Regions from separate parts of the Homo sapiens genome. Here region 2 is linked to region 1. Evidence: fine-mapped expression QTL. A gene starts in region 1. The other region holds a variant in brackets. All regions are shown on one strand. Distances are between the middles of the regions.

Evidence for each region.
Region 2: its variant is fine-mapped to the expression of DCLK1 in vagina (GTEx, PIP above 0.99).

The regions. Positions count from the first base shown.
Region 1 is chr13:36,123,316-36,139,805 of GRCh38, reverse strand. It overlaps DCLK1 (doublecortin like kinase 1), which reads left to right and starts at 8,424. Exons shown (of 17, transcript NM_001330071.2): 1 at 8,424-8,692; 2 at 13,650-14,044. The coding sequence starts at 13,669.
Region 2 is chr13:35,484,159-35,500,648 of GRCh38, reverse strand. All of the region lies in intron 41 of NBEA (neurobeachin), which reads right to left. Among named protein-coding and RNA genes, the nearest start is that of MAB21L1, 16 kb to the right of the region's middle. RefSeq lists an enhancer at 1-1,872. The variant T/C (reference allele first, on the strand shown) is at 9,121.

The DNA of each region.
Region 1 (16,490 bases):
ATAGGCACCCTTTCTCTGACAGTGTATGGGGTTTCCTTTTCAGCATTTCATGATAAGCATATTCTAGGTTTTGTCTCCAATCTTCCTGCATTGGGAGGCTATGAAAACTAAAGCTCAGTGCTCTCAGGGTAAAGCCAATTTGAGTTCTTTTTCCCTTTGTGTGTGTATTTGTTACTTGAACCACACCCACTGATTTTTATAAAAACAATATATTCTATCATTTGGCCTCACATTTTATTAGAACTAAGAAGGGTAGGAGAGTTTTTCAGAGTTTGGTGTCACATCCATGCGTACTAGGTTAGTGTTGTGAAAGTTCTGAGCACTGGGTGGGGGGCAGTGGGAGGGGAATATGCTTCATTCTTTGTGCAGTTTTTCAAACTATTTTCTTTTCAAACTACAAAACCAGAAAGTGTTCATGTGATAGGGCATTAACATAGAGATACACAAAGAAAACGGCAACAATCTGTCTCCCCCACTATTGGCTCCTTAGCAGCCAATATTTACACTTTTGGATGCATGTTTATCCTTAGCTCTGTAAGCTCATACAATTATATGCCAACAGATACACAATACAGATTCTCTTTCTTTCTCTTCATTACCAAATAATGAGATGATACTATAAATATTTCTGCCACTTGCCTTTTCATATAACAGCATATCATATTCCTCCACGTCAATATATGTAGCCTAAGTCGTATGTTATTAATAGAAGCATGTTATTCTGTAGTATGTATATATGTGCTCCAATTTATTCAGCCATTTCTCTATTTATAAACAGTAGTTTTCCTGCCAGAATTTTACCATTGATGGTAGGGAAAGATCAGCAATGAACATTCTAGACACAATTTTATTTGTACTGGTGCTTTTATTTTTGTAGAATAGATCTTGCTGGATCAAAGGCTGTTTGCGATTTGCTTTCCAAAAAAATTATAGCTGTTGTATAAGAGTGTCCTTTCCTCCATATTTTAGCTAACAATATATTTTATCAGTCTTTCTAATAGATGCCAGGCTGATGAGGGGAAATGCATCTCATGTTTGCCTTGTTTACTTCAACCTGAATTTTCAATAAGGTTGAGCATCCTTCCATATGATTAATACCCATTTGCATCAACTCTAAAGTGGAAAACTGCATACACTTTATTCATTTTTCTATCAGATTGCTTGATGTTTACCTATAAATTTCTATGGCTTTTTGTAAGTTAGAAAGAGTAATCTTTGTCTGTCACATATATTTCAAATATTTTTTCCAGCCTATCATTTGTTTTTTGACTTTGCATTTGGTGTATGGACATTTTTATCAGTTTCATTGAGCTGTAATTTACATACAATAAAATTGACCTGTTTTAAGTGTACAATGTGGTAGATTTTGACAAATAGGTACCTGTATGTAACCATCACCACAATGATGATATAGAAGTTTCATTATCCCACATATTTTACCTATGCTTCTTTGTAACCAATCTTTTCCCACCTCTAGCCCTGTGACCACTGATCTGGTTTTCTTGCCTTTTCTGGAATTTCATATAAATGAAATTATGCAGCATGTAGTCATTTGTGCCTGTCTTTTTTCACTGAACATAATACCTTGAGATCCCATGTTGTGTGTATCAGCCGTTCCACTTTTTAAATAGCTGTATGCATATTCCACAGTTTGTTTATCCATTCACCAGTAAATATTTATTTCAGTTGTTGTTTTACCTAATATGAATAAAACTGGTAAAAAAGTTTAAATACAAGTCTCCGTAAACATATTTTTCTTTTTCTTGGGTATATATCTCGGTATGGGATTGATGGGTCATAGAGTAGGTACAAAAAAAACTGGCAAATTATTTTTCAAAATAATCATATCATTTTATATTCCAAATAGGGATGATGAAGAGCTTTAGCTGCTCAACCTCCTCCCCAACACTTGGTATCATCAGTCTTTTTATTTTTAGTTATTCTGTTGGGTGTGCAATGGCATCTCATTGTGGTTTGGGTTTGCATTTCCCTAAAGACTAAAGATGTTGGGCATTCTTATGTGTTCTTTGGTGATGTGTCTGTGCAAATCTTTTGCCTTTCTACCCCTTTTTTTGTTCTGTTCCCTGTTGAGCTGTAAGAGATCTTTATTCTGGATGCAAGATCTTTATCAGATATATATTTTGCAAATTTTTTTTGCTACTTTGTGGCTTGCCTTTTCATTTTCTTAACAGTGTCTTTTGAAGAGCAAAAGTTTTTTAATTTCATAAAAGCCATCTTAGCTAATTCTTACTTATGTTTCATGTTTTTGGGTCTTCTCTAAGTAACCTTTGTATAGCCAAAGGTCACAAAGATGTTTTTCCCATATTTTATTCTAGAAATTTTATTGTGTCAGTTTTTGCATTTAGATTTATGGTACATTTGAGTTAATTGTTAAATGAAAGAAGTTATAATACAATACATTACATCTGTTAGCATCCTACATTTTTCTGTTTAAAGCTACACTTTTGGTATATATACATATACATGAAAAAGTTTAGAATATATATGTACCAAAAATATTTTGATTTTTTTCACTTAAAAGATTATCAACAGCAGAAATGTAGTACGTTTTCTCTTTGTTTAAAAGATACCTTTAAAAATCCACTTCTACAAATTAAATTAAATTTTAAAAGACTCCTTGGGATACATTAAAAACTTGCCAATGACTCTTTGACTTTACTTATGAAATTATTCAGTCTACAGGCGTATTTTATAAAAGGACAAACACTATTGTCTAAGCCCCTAATTTAAAAAATCCCAGGTGTTTCAGGTGAGGTCTGCTACATGCTTAGAAGACTTACATAACTATTGTGACTTCTTAAATATTTGTATTCTATAGAATCAGTGAGAGTTCTCAGAAAATATAATTATATAAAATATAATTAACAGAGTAGCATACAGTATTTTAATATAAGTATACATTAATAAATATAAAAAGTAAATTATTTGTTTCTAAAAAATTTCTGGAACAAAGAGTGTGGCTAAATAAAATTCTATTTGAAAGCATTTTAGGGCTTAGCATGGTGGCTCATGCCTGTAATCTCAACACTTTCAGAGGCCAAGGCAGGAGGATCACTTGAGCCCAATAGTTCCAGACCAGACTGAGCAATATAGTAAGACCTCATCTCTACCGAAAATAAAAAAGTTAGCCAGGTTTGGTGGCAAGTGTCTGTAGTCCCAGCTACTCAGGAGGCTGAGGTGGGAGGATCACTCGAGCATGGGAGGCTGAGGCTGCAGTGGGCCGTGATCATGCCACTGCACTCATGGCATGGGTGACAGAGTGAGACCCTGTTTCAAAAAAAAACAAAAAACAAGATGTATTTTAGCAAAGGTGACTATTTTTGAGATTAATTTTAGGATCCTTAAGTAAAATTTTCATAATTTTGGGGTAATTACTCCATTCCTTGGGGCAGTGATAGAATGTATAAGTAAGTATACATTCTTATTTTTCTGAAATCCTTGTATCAAGAATAACCTGTAATTTTACATAATTTTATTTTTCACTTGGAGATGCCATATTTAATCTATGGACTTAAAGAACTCTGCAGATTTGAATACTTTACTAAGTTCAGATTCACTTCTCTGCTTAAAATCCTTCAGTGATTTTCCTTTTCTTTAGGACAAGTCCACATTCCTTAATAAGGCCCTCAGGATGTGGGGTGCTGTCCCCTGCCCACTCTTGCAGCTGCCTCTCTCCACTCTGTCTGCCTGTGCCCCAGCCACTCTGCCCACCTCTTCTTCCTTGAACAAGCTGCTTCCCACTCAAAGTCTTCACTCAGCTATTTCTTCTCCTTGGAATAATGCCCTTCCCCCTTGTTGCCTGGCAAATTTCAGGTCTCTGCTTAAATGTTACTTCCTCGGGGAAGAAACACTCTCCTTGAAGTTATTTGTGTTCTTTTCCTTCACGGTACTTAAATAATTGTTTGTGTAAGTATGGGTTTAATCCAATCTCCCTACAAGCTACCAATGCCTGGGCACAGGATATTTGTAACTCTATCTCATGATTGTATTACTTCTACCTAGCATGGTGCCTGGCACATTGGAGACACTCAAAAATTACTTATTAGATGAATGGATGAATGAATGAAAAATTATGTGGTCTGTAAAACTCATGACCTCAAAATGGCATTGAAGTCAAGGATATAATCCTTCATATAAAAATGTGAATTTTCCTATCACTGGATCTCTAGATAATTATTTTCTGGAGAGAACATGTTAACCTCTAATTACTTGAGTACGTTGAGAGAGTCATTGGCCATCAGCCATCAACCTGGAGAGAGACCGTGGGCAGTAAGGTGATGGAGCCTGCTGTGACCATGTTCTGTTGAAAGCTTTTATCAACAACTGAGATGATGATGTTGGTGCAGTGTTAATCAGACTGATAGGATGCTGGAGGGATCATTCAAGTATAATGCGCCCTCATTAGGATCCAAAAGGATCTCACTCAACAGGTTTCAATGGGGGAGCAAATAACAATACGCAAGGTTAATAAAGGAAAATTCCAAGTGGGCACTGGACTTAGGTCCCCCAAATCTAATTAAACAAATGCAGAATGAGTGGTCTTAAGAGCAAAACATGTGAAAAGCATGGAGATTTTTATTGACTGGATGAGTCAATAGCATGGCATGCCTGTCAGAGACATTGATTAGACGTTAGCTTCCTATAATGGAAGCACCGTGTCAACAGCCAATGAAGTCATGGAGCTTCCCTAGTCAGACCACCCCTGCTGTGCCATGCCCAGTTCCGGGAGGCAGATGTGGAGGGAGACACTGACAGTTGCACTGCTGTGAGCATTTCCAAAGATGTCAAATGAGAAGCAGTTGAAGGGCTGAGGATTCCTAGTTAATGAGGAGTCAAATTTGGGAGAAAGTAATGAGACTGTCAAGCAAAAGCCAGGACCATTTGATTTGTTCTCCACAGGTCTAAAGGGTAGACCCAGGGTACACAGGAAAATTCCAGGGAAGTGGATCTTAGTTGAATTTGAGGAGCTGTCCAGCAGGGGAGTGGGCTGTGCAGAGTTCCCCTTTACTAAAGCAAATTACATTTAGGCAGGAAACGAAGAAAAGAGCTTTCAGAAGCTCTCTGCTAGTTTATAGAGGTTCTATGAGAGTAGTAGGAGCCTTTCTTCCTCTGTGTAGGTCCAGAATCTCATGTAGTTTGGACCTCAGCATGTTTGGAGGGCCAAACCAAAGGTAAACAGCCAGTTAAAACAATTATTTTTAAAGATCTCATTTACTGTGTCTAGAATTCCATGATCTATCCTAACACTCAAAGGGATAATCTTATTCCTCTTCACTTTTGCCACAGACGCAACAGAATGGAGGCTGGAAGACAACTTGTTGTGGAGGGAATTCATGCACTGGGTAAAAATTGATAGGCTTCTGCCAAGGTCTGACATCACCGAGTTTCTGTGATTCTAGTAGAAGCCAGAAGTATGTTCTCTGTAATTAGAGGGAATTAGACAAACTATCAGGAAATGCCATACAGAGCCTTCAGAAGAAAAGAAATACAAAGGAAAATCAGACTGACGATTATGTTCTGTAAAGCTGCTTCTCACAATTGTGGCAGCCACTACATATACACAGTCTCCCAACCCAGGAGCACTATATGCCCATAGCCACAGAGGAGAGATTATGAATGAGCCAGAGCAAATTCTTCCTCCTAGAGGGAAAAACAGGAAGTGTATCTCTTCCTGCTCATATTCTCATTCTACAGTTCTACTCGCATCTACATGATTAAGCATATTGTTTATGAAGAAGCCAATGAAAAGAACCTGAAAAAAGATACATGGTGAATTATAAAGTATTATTCCGAAGAATAATGGTTCTCTGTCTCTTTCCTGGTTTGCACTAAAACCTTACATTCAGGAAGACAAGCACACTTAGATAAGATTATCCATCCTCTTCGTTGCCAGAGGTTAAAGTGCAAATGTCCTCATGAGAAGTTTAGTCCAAAGACACATTTGAGGGGATCCATCACTAAAAGAAGCAGTGTTCATGATAGCAAGGAGTTAACTCTCTGTTATGAAGTAATAAGCTCTTTGATTAAAAGACTGCATTTTCCAAAAAAGATTACACTTTGCACTAGAATTTGGTATTGCTTTATAAGCATATGGCCTTAGCAATTGAAAAACTGACTTGAATTTTAAAACATACCGATTTTAAATATTGAAGTTGGGCTTGACATTTTTAAGCTACATGACTGTGGGCAAATGATGTAACCTCTCTATGTCTAAATTCCTTCATCTGTAAGATGAGGATAATAATGCCAATGCCTACCTTGCATGGTTCTTATGAGAATGAAGTAAGAAAATGTATGAAAGCCCCCAGCATGGCAAAAAGCAAGCACTAAATTAATGGGAGCCACTGAGAGAGTTGAGGCCTAGTCATTTTCAACCTGTAGGATATAGAGCTGTGTCTGCTTGGGGCGGTAGTTGGGGTACAGCTTAAATAGCATTTGCTTTTGGGAGCTAGAATGAGATCTCCAATACTTTCAGATGATCCTGGGGGAAAGGATGTATTAGTTCCATTCACTTCTTTGATCAATATCTTAGTAATATAAAGGAAGTAGCATTCGTTTTTGAAAATTACTTGAATTAGGAGTTTTCTAGTTAGATTTCATTTCAATAAGGAATTATTGTTGAATATAAATTAGATTTGCCAAATGCTTAAGCTGCCCTGGAATGAACTTTAGTACCAGCCTGCTGTCCTGGACTAAATGATATGACCATACTGTAGGGCCAATGTATACTATTTAATGTCTTCATCTACTTAATTATCAGTTGCCCCCTGGTTTCCTTAAAGAGCTAATGATGCCCAACTATTTCTAGTGAGAGCACTTTGCTACTGAGAGAGTCAAACACCAAGGTGATTCTCTGAACACATTATCTGTGTGTGCTAGGTACAACAGCTAGGAAGAGGTAAGATGATGGTGAGTTACTTAAAGCTCTTAAGAAATGACCCTAGTAGAATATCCATAGGGGTTAAGAGATGAAATTTATTTCTTGGCTTAGCATTTTGGAAGAAATCACTTGGCATTTGTCATTGGCAAGATAAAAAGAAGCTCTGATTTCTGTTCTCCAGAAGATGTACTTGGCTTCTTCCTTTCTCTTAATTTACCCCTATGGCTCTCATTTTGCCTCAGAATGTGAAAGAATAGGCTTACTACTTTGCATTTAGTTAATTTGGTGAGTTCACTGTACTCTCATCTCTGGGCTATTAAATAGTTCAAAAATAAATATCGCATCACTTGTGGAATATGTAGCATGGATCTCATTTGAGCTGTGTTTTAAAACAAATGGTAATTATTTAACATTTACATCATACTTGGAAAGTATTTCAGAATAGAACTTTTTAATAATAAGTAGTCAAACACATAACTGGGATCAATGGGCAAGAGAAAAATAAAATTTTAATGTTCCATTGAAAGGTGTAGGCTCAGGAAGAGAGAAAAATACTTATGTGTATTTTGTATACTCATGTGTATTTGGGACAAACACAGGTTGTGGACGACAGGATTGAAAGTCAGATTAACTGGATCAAAATTCAGGCTGCGTACTGAGCCAGTCTAAGATTTCACCGAAATCTGGGAGCTGCTCCCACTCCCTGGACTTTTGTGCAAAGACTGGAGGAAGCTGTGAACAGCCTGGGCTAGGAGAACATTCCCCCTCTGGGAGGAGAGGCTCGCATGAGCTCATGGGGCTTTCCACCGCAGACCCAGCCTTGGCAGCCACAAAGTGTCCAGCAGTGAAACCTGGCCCTTCAGTTCTCAAGGGCCCTTTGGAACATATTTGACTCTAAGCAGAGGTCACTATTCCAAGAGTGACTCATGTCTTGGGGTTAAGTGGAGATGATGGGTGGGATCCATGAACAGATCCAGCTCTTCCCAATGTGGGGGGCACCAGAGTGCATAGCTTGGGAGGGTTGGTCATCCGAAGAGGCACTGCGTGGGTGCATCCCGGGCAAAAAGGATGAGAAGGTGATCCACTGGCTTCCATACCCTGGGAAAGGTGTCAGACCGTGAGGTCACATCAAAAGGTATGAGTGTGGGTACCTCCTTCCCTCCCCCGACGGTGGGGGCCTCATCTCTCGGCCATATCACCTCTGTGCCTTGCACACTTCCTGGCTCAGACTCAGCCCTGTCCACGTTCTCTTCCACCATCTGATCTGCCCCCATCTCCCAAAGACTACTTGTGGGGACTAGGGAGGTTTAGGGGTGTAGTCAAGCCAGATGCACCGAGGTTGCTGCGGTGGGAAGAGGGCGCTGGGAGGGAGGAGGACCTGGGGCGCAGCCGTGGTGGGTGCGCCCTGCCAAGAAGGGCGGGGGCGACGGGGCGCGCACGCGGAGGAGGAGGAGGAGGAGGGAGACGGGAGGGCGTGTGAGCGAGTGAGACAAGAAAAGGGAGCGCGCCCGCCGCCGCCGCCGCCGCCGCCCTCCTCTGGAGAGAGAGGCTGGAGTGAGGCTGTGCGAAGCGCCGCATTTCAATGAGGACGGGCCGAGGCACATCCCTGCACTAGTGGCCGCAACCGAGGCGCCGCGCTCCAGCAGCTGCTGCCGCCCAGCCCGGCCCCGCCGCCGCCCCCCAGCCCTGCAGCCCCGCAGCCCCGGCCGCGCCCAGCCCGGCGAGGACAGCACCAGGAGGCGGCCCCCAGCGCGGCCACAAAGACCCCCGGCGGCGTCTCTCCGCGGACCGGTGCGTGGTTTGCCTTCCCTGGGGACGGGAGCTGCGGGGAGGGCGGCCGGGGGACTCCGCAGAGCCCGCTCCGCCCGCAGCCGCGGGGCGCCGAGGGCAGGGCGGGCGCTCAGCTTGGCCCCGCCGCCCCGCCCGCAGTTCCTCGAAAGGCGGCCGCCCTGCCCTGGCCAGCCTGGCCCGACCCGGGGGCGTTGCGTGCGGGCGGCCCCGGGGCTGCTGGCACCTGCCTCTTTTGTTTGGTGCCATGGGGCTTTAAACCTGGAGTCAGGCGAGCGGGCCCTCCCAGGCTTTTCGCGTTGTTAGTGGAGATGGAGAGCCAGGGCGGAGGAGCTGGGAGAGGTGCTTGTCATTGTCAGAACTGGCTGCGGAGCGGGAACCAAGGAAGGAGTGGCCGGGCCCGGCCTCTTATTGTGTGTGTGCTTTTCCGTGTGCCCGGGCCAGTGATGTGTGCTTGTGGATGGGGTCGATTCGTGCGTGGTGGTGGCTGCAGCGTGGGTGTTGCAAGTACGTTTGCAGGGTCTCAAGTTCCTTCAGGGACAGCGAGGCTGCCTCATGTTCAAATTAGTACCTGCAGTGCTAAAAGCTTGCGGAGAGGAAATGGCATTTTTTCCTCCTAGTGGGAGCGCACGCACAGCCCCGCAATGCCCCACAAAAGAGGCTGCTTTTGAAAACCAGGTTTGCGCGGAATTGCTCCTGGATTTGGCAAGGAGATGCTTGGTCGGTGAGAGAGAAGATGAAAGGTTTCATTCAAACCGGCTCCCTCTCTGCTGCACCTGTGAGTGTGTCCAGGCACGGTGCACACACGTTCAGCGACCACACTGCAGGCTGTTCCGTGAATACATTTTATGACTGTTCCTAAATATATTGCCTTTCAGTGGGAAAGGAAAGTAGGACAGCGTTTTAAGTATGAAATGTCACATGGATGCAGGTCAGAAGGGATTTTTTAAGAGAGGTCATATAGAGGAAAATTATAAAAGATATGCACACACCCTGTGATGTCTACGTCCGTGGTGGTGCACGGGCCTGGAAGGTATGTGTGCGTTTTATTTCATGCCAGTCCACCTGAATCCTAATCCCACGGTTAAAATATGCCTTGGGACTTCCAGGTCCAGCATCTATTTAGATGTGGTAGCATTTATGCCATTTTTTTCTTGGTATATATGTGTGTAAATTTCTGAAACAAGAACCATGTGCTCATCTAGAGAAGGATGAACATAGATTCCTCAAAATGGTGAGAAATCCCACCGAGAACAATCAGGGATGTTGGTTTCTTGAAATGGCAGGATTTATAGGAAAAGCTCTGATGAGAGCCAGTGGCCCTTCTTACCTCCAGTGTCTGTGGTCGCTGTGGCTGAGGTGCTGTGGTTACCATCCTGGTGCCACTGCACATGTGCACTCAGGCCCTTGGCCACCTATGGTCTCTGAACATTGAGCTGTGTGTTCTCGCAGCCTTCCTGTGCAGAAAGTGTAAACCTGTGGAAGGCCAGTGGATCTTCAGAAGCTCATGCATGGTTCAAATGTATGACTAAGCCAAGGTGAGGGAAAGAACACCTATTTTGTTGCCACGAATAATTACCAGCACACTAGGGTGTGGAGTGTGCTCCATTTAGAGGTAGCTGTAGCCTTGAAAATGATTTCACTCTGAGTATGGTTTCTTTTGTCGACACCATTGCCCACTTTTGGACAGATTCAGGGAAGGGAAGTAAAAGGTGTAGCCCTGCCCTGGATGAACCTGTGATCCAGTTTGAGGAAATATGCAAATAAAATGAAACAAAGTAAACCTTTTTTCTATTTTAAATTGTTCTTTTCTTCTTTTTTCATCTGGTGTGGGAATTCTTGGTCCTAAAAGCCCGTTCCCCCAGGGAATTCTAACTATTGCCAAATTATTTGGCCTTTGCCAATTGTCAGTCACTGAGAATTCGATGTGCACTCTTTCTGGTAACAGAACTGTGCCATCCTTCCCTATGGCCCTGCTTGTTTTCTTTTAGTTTATATCAATTTGGAAGGAAATCCCCAAACTCCTAGTGTTGGGAGAATGATCACTGCCTTTAAGAATAAAACACAAACTTCAAAAGTGAGTTTGGCCTTTATAATTTACAAAATGTTGAAGAACTTAGTGAGTTGGTGTGAGTACTGGGAGTGTCTTCCACTCCACCCCCAAGACACACTCCCTTTTAGAAGACAAGAGAGCTCACTTTAAAACCATATAAATTAAAAAGTAAGAGCAGTTACCAATATCCTGGACAAAAATTGGTTCTGTTTAACAACTAATGCCTACAGGACTGGATATCAAGGGATCATTGTTTTAAAGTTATCTAACATCAAAATCAATGAAACCAGTTCAGAGCTGCCTATATATAACTGTTTTTGAAAAATGCAAATTCTGACTACTATGAGTTATTAAGAGGCAAGAAATAGTTTTCATATTTGGAGGGAAAAAAGTACACTGAACTCATTAACACTCCAGGTTTAAATCACACTTCATTTCTCCCTCCCCAGACCTTCAGTGGGGTCAGCAATAGACCCATAAGCAGGTAGATAGAATCACCAACATCAGAGGCCTGCTGACCACTGCTTCCTCTGTGTGCAGACGAGGTCTGGATCAGTTATGTGGCCTGTCCAAGGTCACTGAGCTAGTTAGGAGTGAGGGCTTACAAAATCCTGCTTCTCATGCTGAAGAGGAACCAGTTTCAAAGGAGCAAGGGATGGAAAACACCAGCTTTGGAGTTACAGTAAATCTGGGTTCAAATCTCAACCCCTCAGTTATAATTTTGGGACCCTGGATAAATTCCATATTCACCTGAATATTAATAATATTACCTACCTTGTTGGATTAATATGAGGTTTAGAAGAGAATTTTTAGCATATTATACAACTGGTTGATGAGTAATAGTGTCAGGTACCTCCTAGACCTTCAGTAAATATTGCTTTCTTTCACTTCATTTCTGGAGTACCAAATCTCTAGTCATGCTTTCAGGTGTGAAATTTTAGCCACTCTGAATGGATCAGAGGTCAGTTTACTGAGGGCCAAAGAAAGGTTGGGGAGACAGTGGTGCATTGGTGAGTGTTCACTGACCTTCAGAAAGGTGATGTCCATCTAATATGGTGGGACTTGGGGAGTGCTTGTAAGGTTCTTGCTCCAAATTTTCCATTTTCCTGATATTCTATTTCAACATGCCTGAAATTTTGTCATTAAAGTGTCTTTCCTTTGAATGCTTTGGTCTTTCCACTTTCTAGATTGTCTTGTTAAACCACAGATTCCCCTGCAAGGCTCCACAAACCTTTATCAACCAACCCCTCAGCAAGGATGAACTGGTCCTCCAGTCAGCTTGCTGTGGGGACCAGGGGGTACAGATGTACCTTTCAAAAGGTCATGAGATGGAGATCAGGAAGAAAGCAGGGGCCTCTCTTGCCAGAAAGGAAAGATTCTATTCCTGCTAGCTCTTTATGTGTCAGGGCCAGGAACACAAAAACAGATTTTATTAATAAAAAAATTAGTACTTATCACATGTCAGACACTATGATAAGAACTTCATGTGCATGAATTTATTTAATAGTTAATACTGACTGTGAGGTAGGTACTGTTCTCATTCCCATTTTGTGGTTGAGGAAATCAAGGCTTAAAGATGCTGAGCAAGTAGATTTTTCAAGCTTACACAGCTAGCATGGGGTCAAGTGTAAATCGACATCTTTAAGCCTCAATTTCTTCAATCACAAAGATAGTCTTAATGAAAGGAAGAACCAAGAAATGTACTTCCAAACATTTTTTCCTTTCTTGTTGTTCCTCTTCCTTCTCCTCCTTCTCTTCCTTTTTCTTCTTTTTTTAAACTCAACTTTTCTGAAGTACTAAATATAAGTAAATGAAGTATAGTGAATTTGCTTTTAAAAATATTGAATGTGTGAATATGTTGGAAAATCTTCTTTAAGTTGGTCCAACCTACAGATTGATTTAATTTGCTCTCCATCTGGCCATGGGGCACACAAACATTATGTAAAACTTTTACAATCTGACTGTTATGCTGCCTGCCCTCTCTTTCTGTCCCAGCCCACCATAGCTACTTCTCTTTCACTGTATGATGATATGAGAGCTTATTTTCTTCCTGCTACCAGGATTAGCCCTCTGCCCTGCAAGGAGCAGTGGGCTTTGGAGTCAGGGAAACCTGGAACAGAGTTGCTGGTACAAGCATTTCTCAACTGTATTACTTGGAGCAATTTAGGGGAAATTTTTCTGTGCCTCAGTTTCTTCTTTTGTAAGGAAGGACAATACTTTGGAAAGTTGTTGTGTCTATTGGGAATAATATCTGTTTGAAGCCTGATGAACCATGGGCAACCTAGGAGCTGCTTCTAACAAATTTGTGGCTGATTAATAAGCTGTTTCCACTGGGATCGGCCTCTTCTGCTGACAGCGTGCAGAGGAGCCTGTGTTTATTTTGTGGGAATTCACATCCCTTTCTCTTTCTGTCCCACTTGATAACTCATATTAAATGTGTCATCAGTTAAAGCAATATTTCCACCCAGCTGTTCTGAAGCAGACCCTTTGAAATCATGATCTCAAAATAACATCATCCCCAAACTTTGGGAGGCCAAAGGGGTTGGGGGGCGGGGGAGGATCACTTGAGGCCAGGGATTCAAGACCAGCCAGGACAATAAAACAAGACCCTCATCACTACTACTAAAAACAAGCAAATGAACAAAAAATGAAGGAAATTAACCAGGCGTGGTGCAGGCACCTGTAACCTGTAGTAGTCCCGGATACTCTGGGAGATTGATGCAGGAGGATCATTTGAGCCCAGGAGTGTGAGGCTTCAGTGAGTACTTCAGTGAGTGCCATCTCACTGCAGCCCGGTGACAGAGCAGGACCCTGTCCCTAACATAAAAAAAACAAAAACAAAAAAATATATATATATATATAACCTACATCAATATGTGTGTCTGCTTTTGTTTCTGGGGCTCGTAGGTCCTACTTGAAGTCCATCATGTCCTTCGGCAGAGACATGGAGCTGGAGCACTTCGACGAGCGGGATAAGGCGCAGAGATACAGCCGAGGGTCGCGGGTGAACGGCCTGCCGAGCCCGACGCACAGCGCCCACTGCAGCTTCTACCGCACCCGCACGCTGCAGACGCTCAGCTCCGAGAAGAAGGCCAAGAAAGTTCGTTTCTATCGAAACGGAGATCGATACTTCAAAGGGATTGTGTATGCCATCTCCCCAGACCGGTTCCGATCTTTTGAGGCCCTGCTGGCTGATTTGACCCGAACTCTGTCGGATAACGTGAATTTGCCCCAGGGAGTGAGAACAATCTACACCATTGATGGGCTCAAGAAGATTTCCAGCCTGGACCAACTGGTGGAAGGTGAGCGCTGTGAGATAACCCCCACGTGACCCTACAGGTTCCAGGCTCAGATTTCCAGTGTTGTAGCCGATTCGCATTTGCCCTCTGACAGTTGACATTCAGCCTTATGGCTGTGATCCTTATAGTTTCAGACATACGAATGTGCTATTGTGTAGAGTAAAAAGGAAAAAAAATTAATGGTATTGTCAGGTAGCTTATAATAATGTGCTAAGGGAAAAAGTCCCTAATTCTACAGCATTCTCTATTTTCTTTCTCATACCCATGCTGCATTAATTTTAAAAGTCCATTTTATCTCTTCAATCTCATAGTTTATATTCGTTTCTAAATGCAAATTAAACTTTTGCTATCACGATATCCGAAAGTACTTGAATTGAAAATGACAAATGGATCATGAAATTTTAGAGTTGAAAGGAACCTTAGATAGCTATCAAACCCATTAATTTTATCTTTGGAGTCTAAGGACCAGAAAATTCAAATGACATGTCGGTGGTTACGTGGTAAGATAGTGATGACCCTGGACCAAAACAGGTTTTCTGACAGCTCGTTCCACTGCGATGCTTCCTTTTGAGTTTAAAGGATTATTGTCTTTCTCTGATTTTTGAGGATATGCAGGGACTAATCTGTTCAGTTTAATTTTTTAAGTCCAATTTAGGTTAATAGTCATTATCTGTTTTAGACATTTAATGTGGAAATAGGACTGTTTGCGTCCACGGATGCAGCCTGGTATCTTATGCAAGCAGAGAAGGTCACCGACTCTGGGCTACACTTGCCTCAGGACTGACCCTGTTTGAACAGGGCATAAAGCCTGTCATTGCCTTAGAAATCATCGCCAATTAAAATGAGTTGGAGAAAAAAGACTGGGATTAAATGTATACCAAGGTGCAAAAAAAGCTAGCAGATCCTTTTTGGAGGGTTGATTTTTCTGAAATTGAGATCTCAAGGCCCTGATGATGAAGAAGTAGATGGCACAAAAGAATCTGGGAAAGGGAGGTTGGATGGAGTGTTGGAAGAGCTTGATTTCACCTTGAGTTCATTTTTACTCCAGAACTATTTGCTCAGGCCGTGTAACTCAACTGGGTCCAGGAGGGATGCCATATAATCCCTCCCTCTCTTGTGCAGGTAGCAGGAAGCACCCGTTGCAGCCCCGTTGGAGTTGGGGGCTGCTCTCCCCTGACCGCACACTGACAGAGCCCTCTTGTCCTGCTTTGTAACCAGTGTATGTATGTGATTCAAGGCTGGGGACTTCTCCCTTTTTGCTTCCCTTCATCCCTTGGCAGAAATGCCAGCCTGATCACAGTGTGACTGGCCTTGAGAGCGTGCAGAGGAGCCTGTGTTTATTTTGTGGGAATTCACATCCCTTTTCGGTGACTTGACATGCTGCCAACATGCCTGTGGACTTGGCCTTTTTCCTTCTATTCAGAGGGTGGAACTTCCAGTAAATTAAAGGAGAAGAATTAACATGAAATTTTACTGTTTCAGCTTTAATTTCTGTGCCCTGTCCTTTGCATGACCTTTGGAAATCCAAGGTTAAATGAAACATTTGGTGGTATAGTCTAGGGGATCTGGATAAAAGTTATACGCAAAGTCAGGTGCATGACCAGTCAACAAGCCGTCCCTCTGAGGGCCGGTAGTACTGTAGGGAAAAATATGGCAAGATCTCAAAGCACATCCTAAGACAGCCATGGGTTGACACCTCACTCTGTTCCAGAGTCACTTGTGTAGCATCTATGGGGGTTGGGGTACTTCAATCAGTTTCCCACCCAGAAATGATCTTTACTTAGAAGTGGCCGAAGATACTCCAATGACTCCCATCCACCAAGGAGAGGGTCTGGGAGGTGGTAGATGACAGTACTCCCTTCACATCTAGGGACCAGCAAAATTATGGCATGCTTGTCACCATCTTCTTTGTCTTTTACTGCAAAATAATGCTTTCTCTGAGGGACTGATGTCTTGACTGAAGGTAATAATGATAGCTCTCAGTTATTGAGCATGTGCCAGGCACTGGCCAAATCCCTGCATATATGAATACATTTAATTCTCACAATGATCCTAGGAGGTGGGAACTGTTATCCTTATATTAAGGTGAGAAAAGGAAGGTACAGTGTGGTTAAATGATCTGCTCAAACTCACAAAGAAAGAAATGGTAGAGTTAGGATTTGAACCCAGGAAGGCTAGTGCCAAAGCTTGAGCTCATAACTACCTCTAAGATGCTGTGTGCTATGAATTCAACTACTATATTGAGTTTTTCCCCTCAATCAATGTGAAGTAACTGCCGACTGAATATTCTGATGTTTAAAAATGACTTTTTTGGGAAAAAAAAATTATCTGATTGAATGAATGGTAACTTTGGTACAGTGTGTGAGTTCACCATGTTGGCTGCATTTATTTTTTGAATTTTCATTTAAACAGATTTTTTTTCTAATTCATAACACTGACAATTAGCATG
Region 2 (16,490 bases), 640 kb after region 1:
AATGAATGCTCAAGAGGTTTCAACTTCATGTCTTCCCAGTCGTTTGTCCAATCACAACAGACTACCAGAAGAGAAAAGAGTAGGCAAAAAACACTCTTCTTTATCAGCCCCAGCTAGCACCTGTAACCTCCAAACAACTATATACCAGCTGATTTGACAAGGCAGCAACCCCAAAAGACAACTGGAAATGTTGTTGCTAGCCTGCTGAGCCTCCATCAGTAAAGGAGCACACCACACGGTGGATGACAGCTTTGTGTCTGTCCCATCCTGCAGCCTTTCCCCCTCTTCCCTGACACACAGTCATGCACTCACATAACAGTCTTATGGCTAATGATGCAAACATGAAGTGTAAAGTCTCTTTAATTTGACCCTTGTTAAACTCCTAATTGGATTGAAGCAGGCTCCGAGTGGAAAGCAACCCTGGATTGTTCAGGAAAGCTCTTGCAAAATGAAGCCCAAATTACAAAAGGCTGCTTGGGCTGCAGGACATCACAAAGAATAGGCAATGAATTGCAGCTGTCACTTAAGTTAAAAATCTAATCAATTGCCTTTTTTTAAACAGGTAACTTTTAGAACAGTTTCTTCATTGTGATACTCTTCAGAGTACGCTTGACCCAAATTTAATAAGCTGCTATTAAAGCAGAAGAGCAGCTGTAGAGCAAACACTGTAGAATGAGACTGTGCATTCAGAGTCTTAATGATTTTAAAATGACTACAACCATTGCTTCATTCATGAGGAACAAAGCTCAGGCTCTCTGCTCAACAATGTCTTAACACAAACTGTCTGAGCAGACAGCGTTCATTTGTCCTTCATGAACTGCAAAGGTCAGCTGCATGGCTGAGGATATCGCAACAGTTTAATTGTGTTTCTTCTGTAGGCAGTCTGAGGGGAGAAACTTAGGAGTCCTTGTATATGAAAACTAGCTTTTCTGCAAGGAAATATACAGCTTAAGTACAGAGACAAGCGGGTGCATGATACGCAGACAGGTGTAAAACATGAAGTAATTATAGAAGCTCAAATTAGTTCTTAGGCCTGAGGCAAAAAAGAGAACAGTGCCTGGACAAAAGGGAATAGCAAATAAGGGTAGCAAACAAAAAATGGCTTGAATGTGTAAATTAGCAAGAAAAATGAGACAGAAAAGCAGCTTTACTCTACTATTATTCCCCACATGAGAACAGAGCAGCTGAACATGATCAAGAGAGCTTTGGAGAAGAGAGGCAGGCATCAACACGGACTCCAAGCCAAAGAGTGGCAGCTCCGCACTTTCTAGTCAGTCACTCATTATGTGCTGAAGTGCTCTTGAGAAGTGCCTCTTATACTTGACCTATCATATTACTTCTTCTGTAAACACATAATCCCTGCTTGTTAGGTGGTGTCAACACTAGCATTCATTCACTATGGGAGTCTTTTTGTGAATAGACACTTTAGAAGTGCTGCCAAAACCAAAGAATTGACACCATAATAAAACAATTTGAATTTCAACCAGGTAAACAGATCTTATGCTTTGCTGTAAAATGCAATGTAAAAAGCATCACATCAATTTTCTCTCATTTAGAAAAAGAAAACCCAAAACAGCTTGCTATAGCAAGACTGTTTTCTTCTTAAAGTGATTATAATTAACTTGGGTTATAGAACCAAGGCCAGAAATAATACCTATTCTTCAATTGCCTGGTGTGGTCACACAAATTCCACTAAGTACTCTTTCTTTAAACAGCACCACCACACAAATCTCAACAGAAAGGTCATGAACACCTCATCAATAATATCAGAAAAGTATATGTCGTTTGTACCAGGCATAACTGAGCATAAGGTATAAGGGGAAAAAATTAATGGAGCATTTAGCACATTACATTTCCATTGGTGAAGACAGATATCATGTAATTAAACTATAACATGAATAAAAGATTTAATGTAGATAACTGAAAAATATGATTTTATTATTTTTAAATATACATTTTCTTATGAAGATTCAGATATGAAGCAAAAATATTTTCATTGTGCATTTGCATAAATTAAATAGTCAAGGAGAGAATACAATTTATTGAAGAGACTGGGACACTTTGTTTTTGAGCAGCTTTTCTTTAAGTTATCCTGATGATGTAGTCCCCACTCTCCTAGTGCTTTAAGAAAATCATTTCATCCTCTAATATTGCTACAACCAGTTCTAAAATAAACAAATCATGATGCTCTCATGTGGTATAGTAGCTATGTGTCACTATGGCTTATTCCATCAGTCATCAATGCCAGAGGACTCCTGCCTGTGGATCCCTTGTCCTAGGTACTACAAAGGAACCCATTTGCCTAGGGAGGAATAAATTGAACAGTAATTATCAATGATTTGCCATAGCTCATGAAAGATATATTGGTAACTCTTACTGGACATATAAAAAAACAAGATTAGCAATGAGAGATTTTCAACACAGAGAGGACTTTCTTTACAAGATGGACATTACAAGTGAAGTATTTAACCTATACATAAACAGTAAAATATCCTTATAAGCAAGTAATACTTAGTGCCTAAGAAAATGTCTACTAAGCATCTCCAATGCATTTCCTTTATGAAATTTGGTACATATGACCTTTAAAGAATAGAATTTTTGTGCAAATCAATACATGCTAAGATCTCCAATGTTAAACATCTACCATTAAATAATTTTGCCACTAAAATACCAATAGTGTTTGAGAAAAAGTCCAAATTTAAGCAACACATTCAAGGTAAAAAATAATAGCCAATATTACAAAGAATGTTTAGTAAGCTCTTAATATAAATAATCCATTCAAGTGGTTTTTATTCTAAATAGACTCTCTTTAAGCATTTGGTAGAAAATTAGTGGAAAGGCATAAAAATATTTGGTTATATAATATTAAATAAGATTATAAATACATAGTCTGAAATCTCCCAGACACCTGTAAGAGTTGATTCCTCATTTGCCTATCATTAAAAGAGATAATATACATGTCTTCCTCATTTTTGTACTTCAGGCAAGGTACTATCTAAATTGATGGGTCAAGTGTTACAAAACAGAGAAAAGACTGAAAGATACTGCACCCAGATTTATGCAGACCTTGCTGATATGCAAATTAATCTCTTGTAGGTAAACCAAATAATCTGGCTGCTAACTTCTTCAGCACTCTATAGATATCAGGTAGTTTACTGGAAGAATAATATGCTAAAATGTACTTCCAGAGTATGAAAGAAAGTCTAACTTACTGCTACAGTGTAATTTATGTTCTGAGAGAATATAGCAAATGAAATAATTTTTCTTATTAAAATCTTATTGAAAATTCCACTCTCCAGTAACAAAAACATTGTTTTAATGCAGATAAATATAAATGTTAAGAACATCTGGCAAAATAGATTTATATTTTTCAGTCCACTTTTTTGTATGTGTATATGAAATCATACAGAGTATAAGCACTTCCTCAATTTCTCCTACAGAAGGTTCCTTAGGCCCTGAGTGAATCACTTTAAGTGGCAATGTTCACAGCTTATGAGATAACCTATTGGAGGTGATCCTGGACTGGTGATCATATCCTTAATTTTTGTACAATCTGCATTTTGTTTTGCAGATTCTATTTTTAACTCATCTACATATCTAACTAAGCTATTTGCGTAATTCACAGTGCTTATGACTGAAGCATAGACTTAGGAGAAAGAGTTGCTTCATGGTTCTTTAGATTTGATAAAGTTAGGAAAAAGTTCCTTCCAAACCATAAGGAAGTTGTGCAATAATATATTTAGAGTTTGGTAAATTTGTTTGGGGGAAGGGAGCATTATTTTGTTGAGAAAGACATGAGATGTCCTGATTCAATATCTAAGTTCTAGCTCCAGTCCTGGGAGCGGTAGAGGTGCCTGCACACCAAGCTGCTCCAGTTATTAAGGCTTCTCCTTGACTTTTTGAGAAAAGACATATTGCAGGAATTAAACTTATCCTTGCTAGAAGAACAGCTATTAAAAACCACTGTTTGACTTTTCTTTTTCTTTTCTTTTCTATTCTTTTTTTTTTTTTTTTTTTGACAGAATCTCACTCTGTAACCCAGGCTGGAGTGCAGTGGTGACAATATCGCTCACTGCAGCCTCAACCTTCTGGGCTCAAGTGATCCTTCCACCTTAGCCTACTGAATAGCTGGGACCACAGGTGTGCACCACTATGCCTGGCTAAGGTTTTCATTTTTTTAGAGACAAGATCTCACCATGTTGCTCAGGCGGGTCTCAAACCCCTGGGCTCAAGCTAACCTCCTGCCTCAGCCAATCAAAGTATTGGGATTATATGAGTGAGCCCCCACACCTGGCCTTGTTTGGCTTTTCTACATAGGACTTTAAAAATCCAATTTAAGGAACACAATATATGAAAGTAGAGCCAGGCACAGTGGCATGTGACTCTAGTCACTCTCAACTACTTGGGAGGCTGAGGTGGGAGGATCCCTTAAACCCAGGAGTTTGTGTCAGGCCTGGGCAACATAATGAGACCTTGTTTTTTTAAAAAGGGAAGTACAATACTGCCTATATCTTACTGAACTGAAAAGTACAGTTATAATATTCTTCCTTATTTTGTGCTGTAACTTCCACCCAATTATCTTACTTGTGTCCTCTGGAAGGTCATGTATACATATTAATATTCTCCTTGCTATAAACGACAGGCTTCTTAGAGGAAACTATTATATCCTACTTCATCCCCATCTCTACCATCCAAATTAGACTCCTTAGTTGGGTACACTAGCCTCAGTTCTTTCAAGTCACATGGCATGGTTTCTATATCATTTATGAATCTTGCCTATCATCCAAAGTATTTGCTGTTCAGTTTGTCAACTGTAGAAAGATTTTTAATTCCATTGTGTCAAAAAATCTTTGTATTATTTTAATCCTTTTAAATTTATTGAGGCTTGTGTTATGGCCTGACATATGGTTTATCCTGGAGAATGTTCCATGTGCACTAAGAAATTTTGCTGTTCTTGGGAGTGTTCTGCAGATGTGTATTAGGTCTGGTTGGTTTATAGTGTTGTTTGAGTCTTCTATTTACAGATGTGCCCTGACTTATGATGGTTTGACTTATGATTTTTTGACTTTACAGTGGTGCAAAAATGATACATATAAAATACACTCCTCAATTTATGATGGGTTTGTCAGGATGCAACACCCTTGTAAATTGAGGAGCATATGTCCTTGTCAATCTTACATCTAGTTATTGTCTTCATTATTGAAAGCGGGGTATTGAAGTTTCCAACTATTATTGGATAATTTAATATTTCTTTTTTCAATTCTATCTGTTTTCGCTTTATGGACATTGGGCTTTGTTGTTAGGTGCAAATATATTTATAATTGTTATAACTCCCCTATAAGCTAATCTTTTTTGATTACAAAGTGTTTCTCTTTGTATGTAGTGGCTTTATTTAGTGTAAAAGTCTATTTTATCTGATATTATTGTAGCCATCTCTAGGTCTTTTATGGTTGCTGTTTGTGTGCATATCTTTTTTTATCTTTTTATTTTCAACCTATCTGTATCTTTGAACCTAAACTGGGTCAAAACACATAGTTAACAGCATCTGGTTGTATGTAGAGAGCACAGAGTTGGATCTTATTTTTATTTTAATTCAGTCGACAGTCTCTGATTTTTTTTTCTTTTCTTTTCTTTTTTTTTGACAGAGTCTCACTCTGTTGTCCAGTCTGGAGCACAGTGGTGTGGTCACAGCTCACTGCGGCTTCAATCTCTATGGGCTCAGGTGATCCTTCCACCTAAGCCTCCTCAGTATCTGGGACTACAGGAATGTGCCACTATATCCAGCTAATTTTTCTATTTTTTGTAGAGATGGAGTTTTGCCATGTTGCCCAGGCTGGTCTCAAACTCCTGTGCTCAAGTGATCCATCCATCCCAGCCTCTCAAAGAGCTGAAATTACGGAGCCACTGCACCTGTCTCTGATTTTTTATTGGACTGTTTAATCCATTTACATTTAATGCTATTATTGATATGGTTGGATTTACATCTGATATTTTGCTTTTCGTTTTCTGTATCTTTCATATCTTTTTTGTTCACCTCTTCCTCCTTTACTGCCTTCTTTTGCCATTCCTTCACTTGTTTTTTAACTACATCTATTTAGTTATTTTATTAGCGATGGCTCTAGGGCTTACAATATATTAGGTTGATGCAAAAGTAATTGCAGTTTTTGCCATGAAAAGTAATGGGAAAAACCACGATTCTTTTGCACCAACCTAATACATCTTAATTTATCAGACTACAGATTTATTTTTCAAAAATTTAGATCTTATTTGCTTACCCACAGGATTTGAGGCAGACTTGACTTTTTCCCTTAAGTCTTAATCACATTTTTGTTACCATTGTTGATCAGAAGGTGCCAAGCAAAATTCTCTAATATTTTGCTCTCATCTAGTCTTCTGACATATCTCACTGTCTCTGTAATTCCTCAACAATGATTGGTCCTTCAATCAAACCTCCAAATTCTGTTAGTACCCTGAAGTCATGAATTCATTTAAAGTGATTAATTACTTTCTTACTATTTTCTTACTTATCATTGGTTTTGTATTCCTTATATTCATATTCATTATACCCTTTATAAAGTTACATAAAGACAAATATATAGAGTTGTTTTTAAAAATATTTAATAACTAAAGATTTAAATTTGAAATTATACATTATAAAGAAATCATTAAATTTATAAAATGAATTCATTTTTAAAAGATTTATTGTAAGGATCCTTTGAAGAATAAATTCACAGATATATTTAAATATAATTCAAATAATAAAAATATGCTAACTTTTCAGGAAGGTATATGTTGCACATGACGAGATACACCTTTAAAGGTAAAACTGCTGCTATTTTGTACTCATCTCAAAGTTAAATAATACAGAGAACTGAATGAATTTTAGAAGGGAAATCATCTACTCCAATGCCTTCATCACACAGGGCAGGAAACTAAGCTCATTAATAAAGATTGTATATTCTATTCAAAAAGGAGCAAGCTCTAAAACCCAAGCTTTCTGGTTCCTAATGGAGGGCTTCCTCACTCTACTGGGAAACTAAAGAAAGTTATATGATATGAAAACACTTAAGAGTAAAGTATCTTTGGCAGTTTTACATACTTCAAATAAAACATATGACTAGGTCCTACCAAAATATCCTGATGGACACTTTGGTAGTATTGGAAACAGATATACTAAAGTGGATTATCACTTGGGCAGACACCTAAAAAACACTTTCATATGGAATGTTAGGGTCTTTTAAAATAAGAGTCTATGAATTCCCTGGCTCCAGGAATAAATTTAAATAAACTCCCATATCATTAGTTGTTGATGATAAAACTGCTTATCAAATCTCTCAAAAGTATTCAAAGCATTAGGCTACAAAGGATTTCATCAAGTTATCTTTTGGCTTCCAAAATCCCAGCAACCCCTCTTAGGCCCATTTGTTTGTTTTGTGCAGGCTCTGGTGACTCAGATTGTCTCCTGTTCCATTCACTTAACAGCATTCATTCTACTCTTCATGGGTCTTCTTTCCCCAAAATTCTTTCCCTCTCCACCCAGAATCTTATAATCACTTTTAGAGAATTCAGTATTCATATAGACAATCTATTCTGTACCTTAATCTTAAAATTCTTTGATTTCTTTGTATTTCAGCAGTCTATGCCTGTGTCCATATTCCGCTTAGTAAACTATTCTGCCTATGTTTAAGCTATCTCAGTCACTTATCTATTTAGAAATTTTACTACATCTACTTTTCTCCTTCATCTAGGGTTGCCAGGTAAAGCAGGATTCAGCATCGTTATCTCCCATTCCTTTTAGTGACAGTTTAAACATCTAAGTCCCTTCTTGAAGCTTACCTCAGTCCCAGTGCTTTAAGTGCCAAGAGAAAACTGAGGCCTAGTTGTATAATCCACCAACTTTAAAAACCACCATCTACAAATTTATCTTCCACAATGCAACAGTTTCTTCCTGCTACATTTTCAGATCTCCACCTGTTTATCCTAAACCCAACATCTCACCCTCCACTGTTACAAATACATATGGAATAAAATAAAATGCAATATTAATAATTGTGTAGAGTTTATCTTCAAGGAAAAAAGCCATCTCTCATTGTAGCCTCAAGACAATGATACCATTTCCTTCTACTGATCTTGGAGATAGAGAGACCTCCATGATTTAGTCCTTCATTTTAACTTTAACCTCTCCTCTATGGCTTCTTTCTCTATGCCCTAAATATGTTCAAATACCTTTAAAATTTTTTCTTGCATCACTTCATAATTACCATACTATCTCTTGCATTTCCTTTATTTCTACTTTTTAAAAATTGTTTATTTCCATAGGTTTTTGGGGAACAGGTGGTATTTGGTTACATGAGTAAGTTCTTTAGTGTGAGATTTTGGTGCACCCATCTCTTGAGCAGTATACATTAAACCCAATTCATAGTCTTTTATCCCTCATTCCCTTCTGACCCTTTCCCCCTGAGTTCCCAAACTCCACTGTGTCATTGTTATGCCTTTGCATCCTCAAAGCTTAGCTCCCACTTATGAGTGAGAACATACAATGTTTGGTTTTCCATTCCTGAGTTACTTCACTTAGAATAGTCTTCAATCCTACTTTTCTTGAAAGTGTATTGTCTACCTCACTTTCCACCTCCGATTTACTCTTCAATCCTATTGTGATCTGCTTCTGTCTCTACAATTCCATTGATACGGATGTGGAAAGACAAAGAACTTTTTATGTTATTTGAACTCTATGTGGTAGCTGAACTGTTGTCCACTAACTTTTTATTACAACTCTCTTGTGTTTGGCATTTAAGATAGTCATATCTGTTAGTTTTCCGCCTTACTTTTCTGAACATTCCTTCTCATTTATTCCTATTGGATCATATTCCTCACAGAGGAATATTAGTGAGAAGCTATGTTCCCTAGCATAATTCCTTGTACTTTTTCTCATTCTATATTGCCTCAGATAACCAGTAGTACACATACAGGATAATGGGCACCAAAAATAAATTAAGAGATGATGGTGGCTTGCAAGGATGGAAGCTGTAAAGTTGGTGAGAGATGGGCAGAGTCTGGAGGATTTGTTGACACTCTGGATATTGGGTACACAAGCAAGCGAGGAGTCAAAGATGACAGCCA[T/C]GTTGTTGGCCTAAGAAACCGGAAAAAAGGCACTGCAGTTTACTGAGGTACAGATGACTGATGGAGAAGCAGGTGCTCAATTGGGAATCTAAGTTTGAAATGCATCTTATATATGTGAGATGATGTGGAGAAGACCACTGAACATACCAGCTTGAAATTAAGGGGAGAGGTCTTGGCTAGAGATATAAATTTAAGAGTGATCAATGTATAGAACATATTATATTGGCGAGTATTGTTTGAAAAATCCTTCACTCATTCAGGCACTGAGTACCTGCTATATGCTATCAAAATAACCAGCAAAATTAACAAAATCTTCCACTGGGAAGTACAGAACAGATGATATTCATTTAATTATTCATTCAACAAACATACCTAAGCATGATGCTACATAAACTCAGAAGTCTGGAGATAGAAAAAGCTGGGTTTGAGTCCTATCTTTGCTAGTTACTGTGTGGTCTTGGGTAATATAAGTTTAAAAATATTCTTTTTAAAACACATAAACTTTTATGTGTATTAATTTATTTAACCTGTGCAACAACCCTATGACACAGAATTATCCCTGTTCTACAGATGACAAGACAAACTTAGAGAGGTTCTATATGATGACTAAGAAAGCACACTCTGGAGCCTGGGGCCAGATGGCATAGATGAAAATCTTAACTCTGCTAACTCCTAGCTTTGTGAACTTGGAAGAGTTACTTGAATTCTCTGTGTTTCAGATTCTTAACAATGAAATGAGGCCAGAAGTTTCTACTTCATAGTGTTGAGAAGATGAAGGTACATACAGTAATATAGATAAAGCACCTAGCAGAATAACTTGCAAATAACAAAAACTCAGTTTTAGCCAATTTTACCAATTTGTTCTTTGTCTTGTTTAAAGATGTAAAAATGTTCTTAAAAAAATGACCTGCAACTTTTCATCAAGTTCCTAAGACATGTTTTCGAGTGTTTAGCTGACTTTTAGGCAGAAGGTAAAATATGAGAAACAGTAACTTCTTACGTCAGGGTATACAATTAAGACTAGAATTTATCTGAGGCTGGATTAGGTATCCTGTAATGAGATTCAGGAATCTCCAACTGGTCCTTTGGTTGATAATCAGTCTAGTTGGTGATCTACATTAGTACAGGTATTTCAGTATGTCTAACTAATAAAGTGGTACTTGCCCTTAAGGGTTTTGTTATCTGGGCTCTAGAATATGGTAAATATTAAACACTGGAATCAATAGGTAAAACTAACAATTCTTAATAAATTCTACTATAGTTTCTAGACAACAGAAGATCAAATAGGACATAGCTTATAAAACTACTTAGCTGAAGTGGCTCCACTATCTTATTTACTGAGTATAAGGCTTTAATAAAGTTATAGCCTTCTTTTGTTGGCATTTGTGTCTGTCCTCATTCTAGTGTGCCCTCAGTAAGCTACCAGATCTGAACCCGCACAACAAAAGTGCCACTCATTGAAACAGTTATAACAGGAAAGGAAAGCAAGTTGATGGGATTTACAGCGTTACAGGCCACTGAATCACTGACTACTTGGTGAGGGCACGTAAAGAAACATCATTTTCAACACTGCTAGGACAGTGAAGCCAGGTTAATGAAACAGCTTTGGAACATGAAAGCTATTCATAAAGTTTTTTTTAAACTTCAGATTTCCTTGGGAAACCTAATTAAGAAATAGGAAACTTCCATTAATAATTTTCAATTATTTTACTTGTAGGTTTGATTTCCCAGTGGTACATTTTTTAATGAGCTTTTATTGCTTTATATTTTCTATGCTATTATCTACTTGCAAGTGCCATAAACATTTTGAGATTTAAACAAAAACATAAAATGTTGAAGAACTGGCATTCTTCTCAAGCCTGGGGACTAATAAGTAACGTAAAGTTTTACTTTGAAACATGTTTCTCAGCCTTTCAAATACCGAATTTACTTTTGATGTCCATCAGCTAAGCATAAAGTAGCTGTATCAACACAATGCTAGGAAAAAATAAGTGGCATAGATTATGATTTGGAGAATTCTTAGGGATCAGAGAAGAGCATAAGAATAAATCACTTAGAGAATTAGCTGTATTCCAGGCTTCATTAGTTCTAATTATCCCCCAAATATGCCCAGCAGAATGCACTTGGGTCAGCTGGGACTGATACACAATAGAGTAGGCAACTTATAAACTCCTCAAAGCACAGAAAGAGTTCATAAAACGACCGCTTGTGCATTTAGATTCATGTGATAACACCTCTTATTGCATAAGCCACCAGATGAAACAGATGGGGCAGCTCTTCACTTGAGAATGTTTCTGTTGTAAACGCACTGGACTTCTTTATTCCCCATTCAAGATACAAACTGCAAGAAAGCCAAATTTCAGGCAGGCTGTCTTTGTCTTTTATTGCCTAGATGTCACAGCAGTAATAAATAAAGTAGTAATGAAACATCCTCATTAAAAAAAAAACTTGGCAAATAAAAACATGCGCCTGCACTTAAAGAAATTCAAGGCTTTAACACAAAAAAGTTAATGCAATTTTTTTGCCACCCATACAGACATAAATGTATTTTGTATTTTACAAATTACTTAATTAATATATATTAAAATGCATTTTGTATTTTACTACTGCTTCTCAAATGTGTTTTGAGAATTCTCAGAATACGTTTTTTCCAACAATGTATTTAATACTTAAGGGAGGCCTCTTTGCCCTACATTCACCAGTTCACTCTGTGATACTGAATATTCAGTTCTAGGCACTGCACTTGAAGAAAACAACTGAGCATAATGGGTCTTGTGACTACTTTGGTTTAATTTACAAATTTTCACATTGGCTTCAAGTTATTAAAAATATCACTTTTTAAAAGTATTTACCTCTGCTCATGCTAAATTATTTAGAAACTCTTGTTATTGTCAAAAGGTTAAAATATGTAGATCAATATGTTGGTGATTCCTATAACAGTCTACAAGTCCTAGAAGCACATCTATTTGCATTGAAAGTTTATTAGTTTGCTAGTCATTGATCAAGCATGTGGGAAACCTGCAGATTTCATTTGTAGATACAAAATTTATTGACAAAGCAAAATTGATAAATGCCAAAATACATAAAGTATATACTTTATCCCAAATGAGGCTTCTTAGTTACACATTTCGATAAAGCTATGAAAAACTAATATTAGGATTTTAAATATTTGGAAAAAAAACTATACGAAGGCTGTGGAGTATTTAGTAAATTCAATGTATCCTGAGGTCTTATTAAGTGGATTAGCTTCCTTCTACACTTAAACTGAGCAAAAACATTAAATTCATTAAAGTTAGATTGTTTTGCTCTGAATATTCTATGTGTAGCTTATGAACACATTTTTAGAAAGAACTGTTATGCCTATTGATTCTTAAAATAATGATGTATAACTTATTATTATAAGTCAAGTCACGGAAAAAATACCTAAAAATAGCAAGATATGAGTTGGATGAATACAAAAGTCATGTACTTAGGACCTCGGTAATAATATGTTTAAACAAATAAGATATTTGTTGACATACAGCATTTATCTGCGTGGGTATGGATATGCCCAAAAAGCTCATGTGACCCATGTTTCGCTATTATTCTCCACTTTACATGTACCAATCCATTCTAGGAGTAATACTTTCTAGGCACCGTACTTGAAGAAAATCATGTACCAGAATGGCTCCTGAACAGTGAGGTGACTTAAAAGATGCCAAAGGTGTAATAGCTGAAAGACTGGAGTATGTTCAACTTGGTATCTGAAATGCTGAATTTAAAAAGCATATATTTGTTAAAGGGATAATACTATTCAGAAGGGAAAGTAGGGGCCAGAAGGTGAAAGTTTCAAGGGGAAATATTTTGGTTCAATATTAGGAAGAGCGTTCTAACCACTAGAACTGTTGTAAGTGCAATTAACTATCTGAGTAGGTAGTAAGTTTCTCATTCATGGAGGTAAAAGTAGAGGTTAGATAACCACCTCTGGCTATGGTTGTTACCATGGCTGGTAATGGTGTAGAGAAGATTCAGACAGTTATGAAGAGGGTTACATTGCATTATCCTCCAGAGTTCTTTCCTGCCCTGATATAAAATGTCTGACTTATGCGGCAGAATTACTTTTTTCCCTGATACTAACTGCATGACACATTTTAGTAAAATTTTCACTGTAAGTTTTAATTTTTATGTAGAGTGAAATACAAATTGAGCATAAGTACTGATTAGTAACTATAAGTACTAATTCTATATAAGTACTAATATAATTCTACTAATCAGTACATAAAATAGTCTTTATATAATAATATAATCATATGTATCATTGAAAAAATTTCCTCACATTTTAGTATCTATACCAAAGAATAATTTACTACAGAATAAATACAACTGGCATTGGCATAGCTTTCTTGGAAATGACTGCACTTAAATTCATGATCAAAGGAAGTTTTCAATGTGTCTTGAGCTGAAAAACAATATTGTGGGTGGTATAGCTCACTGATATTACATAGTAAAACTATGATATGGATAAACCTTTATAAAAGAAAAGTATATAAATATTTCACTCAAGTAATTATTGAAATAATTGCTTCTCCTCATCACATTTATAAAGGTATATCCCATTAATCTTAAGTTTTACAATGAAGTGGTTATCTAGGTGAATTAGTCCAATTTGATATTCAGTAAACAGTACATATCTTTCCTAAATAGTTTCTCCCAATGTGATAGATCAATACATTATCCTTATAAAATTAAAATTTATAACATAAAAGTATCTCAGTATTTACCTATTTAAAAGCATCCTATAAAGAACCTATCTTTAAAACTCATCAATTATGTTGTTTATGTAAATGCAAGCCTAGTAGCAGTTTCTATGAATTATATCTGGCTATGGACATATGTAGTCTAGAAACTGTAATGCTGATGGCAGCCACAGTCAGACAGACCTGGCTCTGCAATTACCTGTGTGACCCTGGTAAGATGCAACCTTTCTAAACCTCAGTCTCTTTATTTGTAAATGGGAGCTAATATTTGTTGTGAAGATTAAATGAGATTAAATACTCATTAAATATTGGTCCCTGTTCCTTGTCACCCATCTTTCCCAGCTCAGAATTATTTTAAGTATCAAATGAATTAATGGATATAAATCCTTTGTAAATTGAAAAGAATGTTGCAATTGTAAAGCATTATCTCATTTAATAGGTAATTTATCCCTCTGAATTACATTATGGTTAATGGTGTTCATTATTGTTTTGAATAATCCATGTAAGTATAGGTTCTGTAATATGATAAATTTCTATAGAACAAATTAATAACTTAAAAGATCATATTTGAAAATACCCAGAGAAAACAATCATTAGCAACAATTATTCTCTAAATCATTTTGGAATAACTAAGTTTTAATGACATAATATAACTATTGGCTTGGGACAGGCTAGGCTTGTACAAGCAGTGGGAGAATTGAGGCTTTACCATTCATTCAGGTGAAGAGAAGAACATATTTTCCCTCAAAATTTCATCAGCCTATTTTTTAGACTAAACAATCTGGAGAATTTTCTCAATTACCTATTACCTGATTTATACGCAGAGTTCAAATACACACTCTAAAGTGGTTGTGAAGTATGTCTTACCCAGAGTTTCTTATTTAAGAATATTACAGCATTCAAGGGTAAAACACTGTAAATCATACAAATACTGGAAACTTTTAAAAGCATTATTTGATATTATTCTGATTTTTGTTTTTAAAGATACAGATATTGAAACTATCACAGCTGATCATTTCATTCTGACATGAGTTTTAAAGGTTAAGTTACTATCTGAAGAAAGGTAATCTGGTTGCCTTTCACAGCAGCCTGCAAGCTCTGCAATCTGCATAGAGAGGGGCATTTGTCATCATTAGCTGAGCTGTGACAGCTGGCACCCAGGGTGTCCCAGAATCAAGAAGTGGCAGAGACACTCTTGGTTTAGGTTGCCATTAAGTATAGTAGGTTTCTTGAGGATCAAGTATATTTTACGAAAAGCTTTGCGATGTAACTAACAGTAGTGAACATATTTGAATTTTCCATAACATGGATAATACAACGATAGCACATAATTAGCAGGTTGCCTCTAGACAACAAGATGCCAGATTATAGTATGAATAAACATCTACTGCCTGCCACTTAGAGAGGTAGAATTGTTTTCAGTACCCTAACAGCTCCAGCAGAGTGGTTTTTTCAGGGCTGGGTGATTAATTAAGTATATTGAAGGAAATAGGTTAAAGATGGAGAGGACAGTTCTCAGATATATTTTAAATTTGGTTGTAAATAATACATAACTTCCCAAGAATTAGCTAAACTGTACACATCCAATATAGCACCCATCTTTTTTCATAATATGAATATGAAAATTAAAGTAATTCATATAGATGCAGTCTTCCAATTGGCTGAAGTGTACGTAATTGGTAATATGTATTTAAAAATATTCCTTGGCAAAAGTTCAAAATCAAAATCTTCTTACCAAATGGGTGCTACTATGAGTCTGAAACAGTTGTGGTAAGTATATCTAGAAAAGAAGTTTTAAAACTTTAAAATGTTATAAATATGTCTTTTAGATCTTAATGTAAAACTATTTATCAAAAGAAAGTTTAAATTATACAGGTTGATCAGACTTTTGAAAATTTAGAATACTACCACCCCTCTAAAGTCATCAATGCTTGGAAACATAATCAATAACAGGGGTTTTATATTATTATGTAAACTAGTTTTCCACAAATAAAACTAATTTTTGTGTTAATGTAAAATCTATGCAAATACATGCAGTCATTTATCAGGAAAGCTGACAAGCATTCCATATTGGAGGGGAAATGAAACTGCCTCAAGAATAGAGGCAATTAATTATTTCTGTATTTTTTCTTTTTCTGTCTTGAGGCACAAAAGTTATCCATCCAGTTAAAACAGCAAATGAAATAAAGAGATTTTTTTTTTATTTAAACACATATGGCTTTTGCCTGCAATACTGATCACCACAAGGTCTACAGATGCCCGTGGCTAAATTGTACACTGGCAGATGCACACAGGGGAAAACTGTGCTAATGCAGCGTGGAGAGCAAAACAAATGAAGAACTGAAATTGCCAGTAAAAAACAAAAAACAAAACATCCCACATTTTTCCCCCTGAAGAGTTATACATTTTGTTTATCAAATGCAGGTTAAGGTTGCAAAAAATTTAAACTTGGTCTGTTGCAAAAAAGTAAAAAACAATTTTAAATTAGTGAGGGTCTACATATATATATATATATATACACACACACACACACACACACACACACACACACACACACATATTAATGTAGGTAAATATTTAAGTAAATTTTTTCTATGGACAAAATGGCTAGCAATAAACTTCTCAATTTCATAA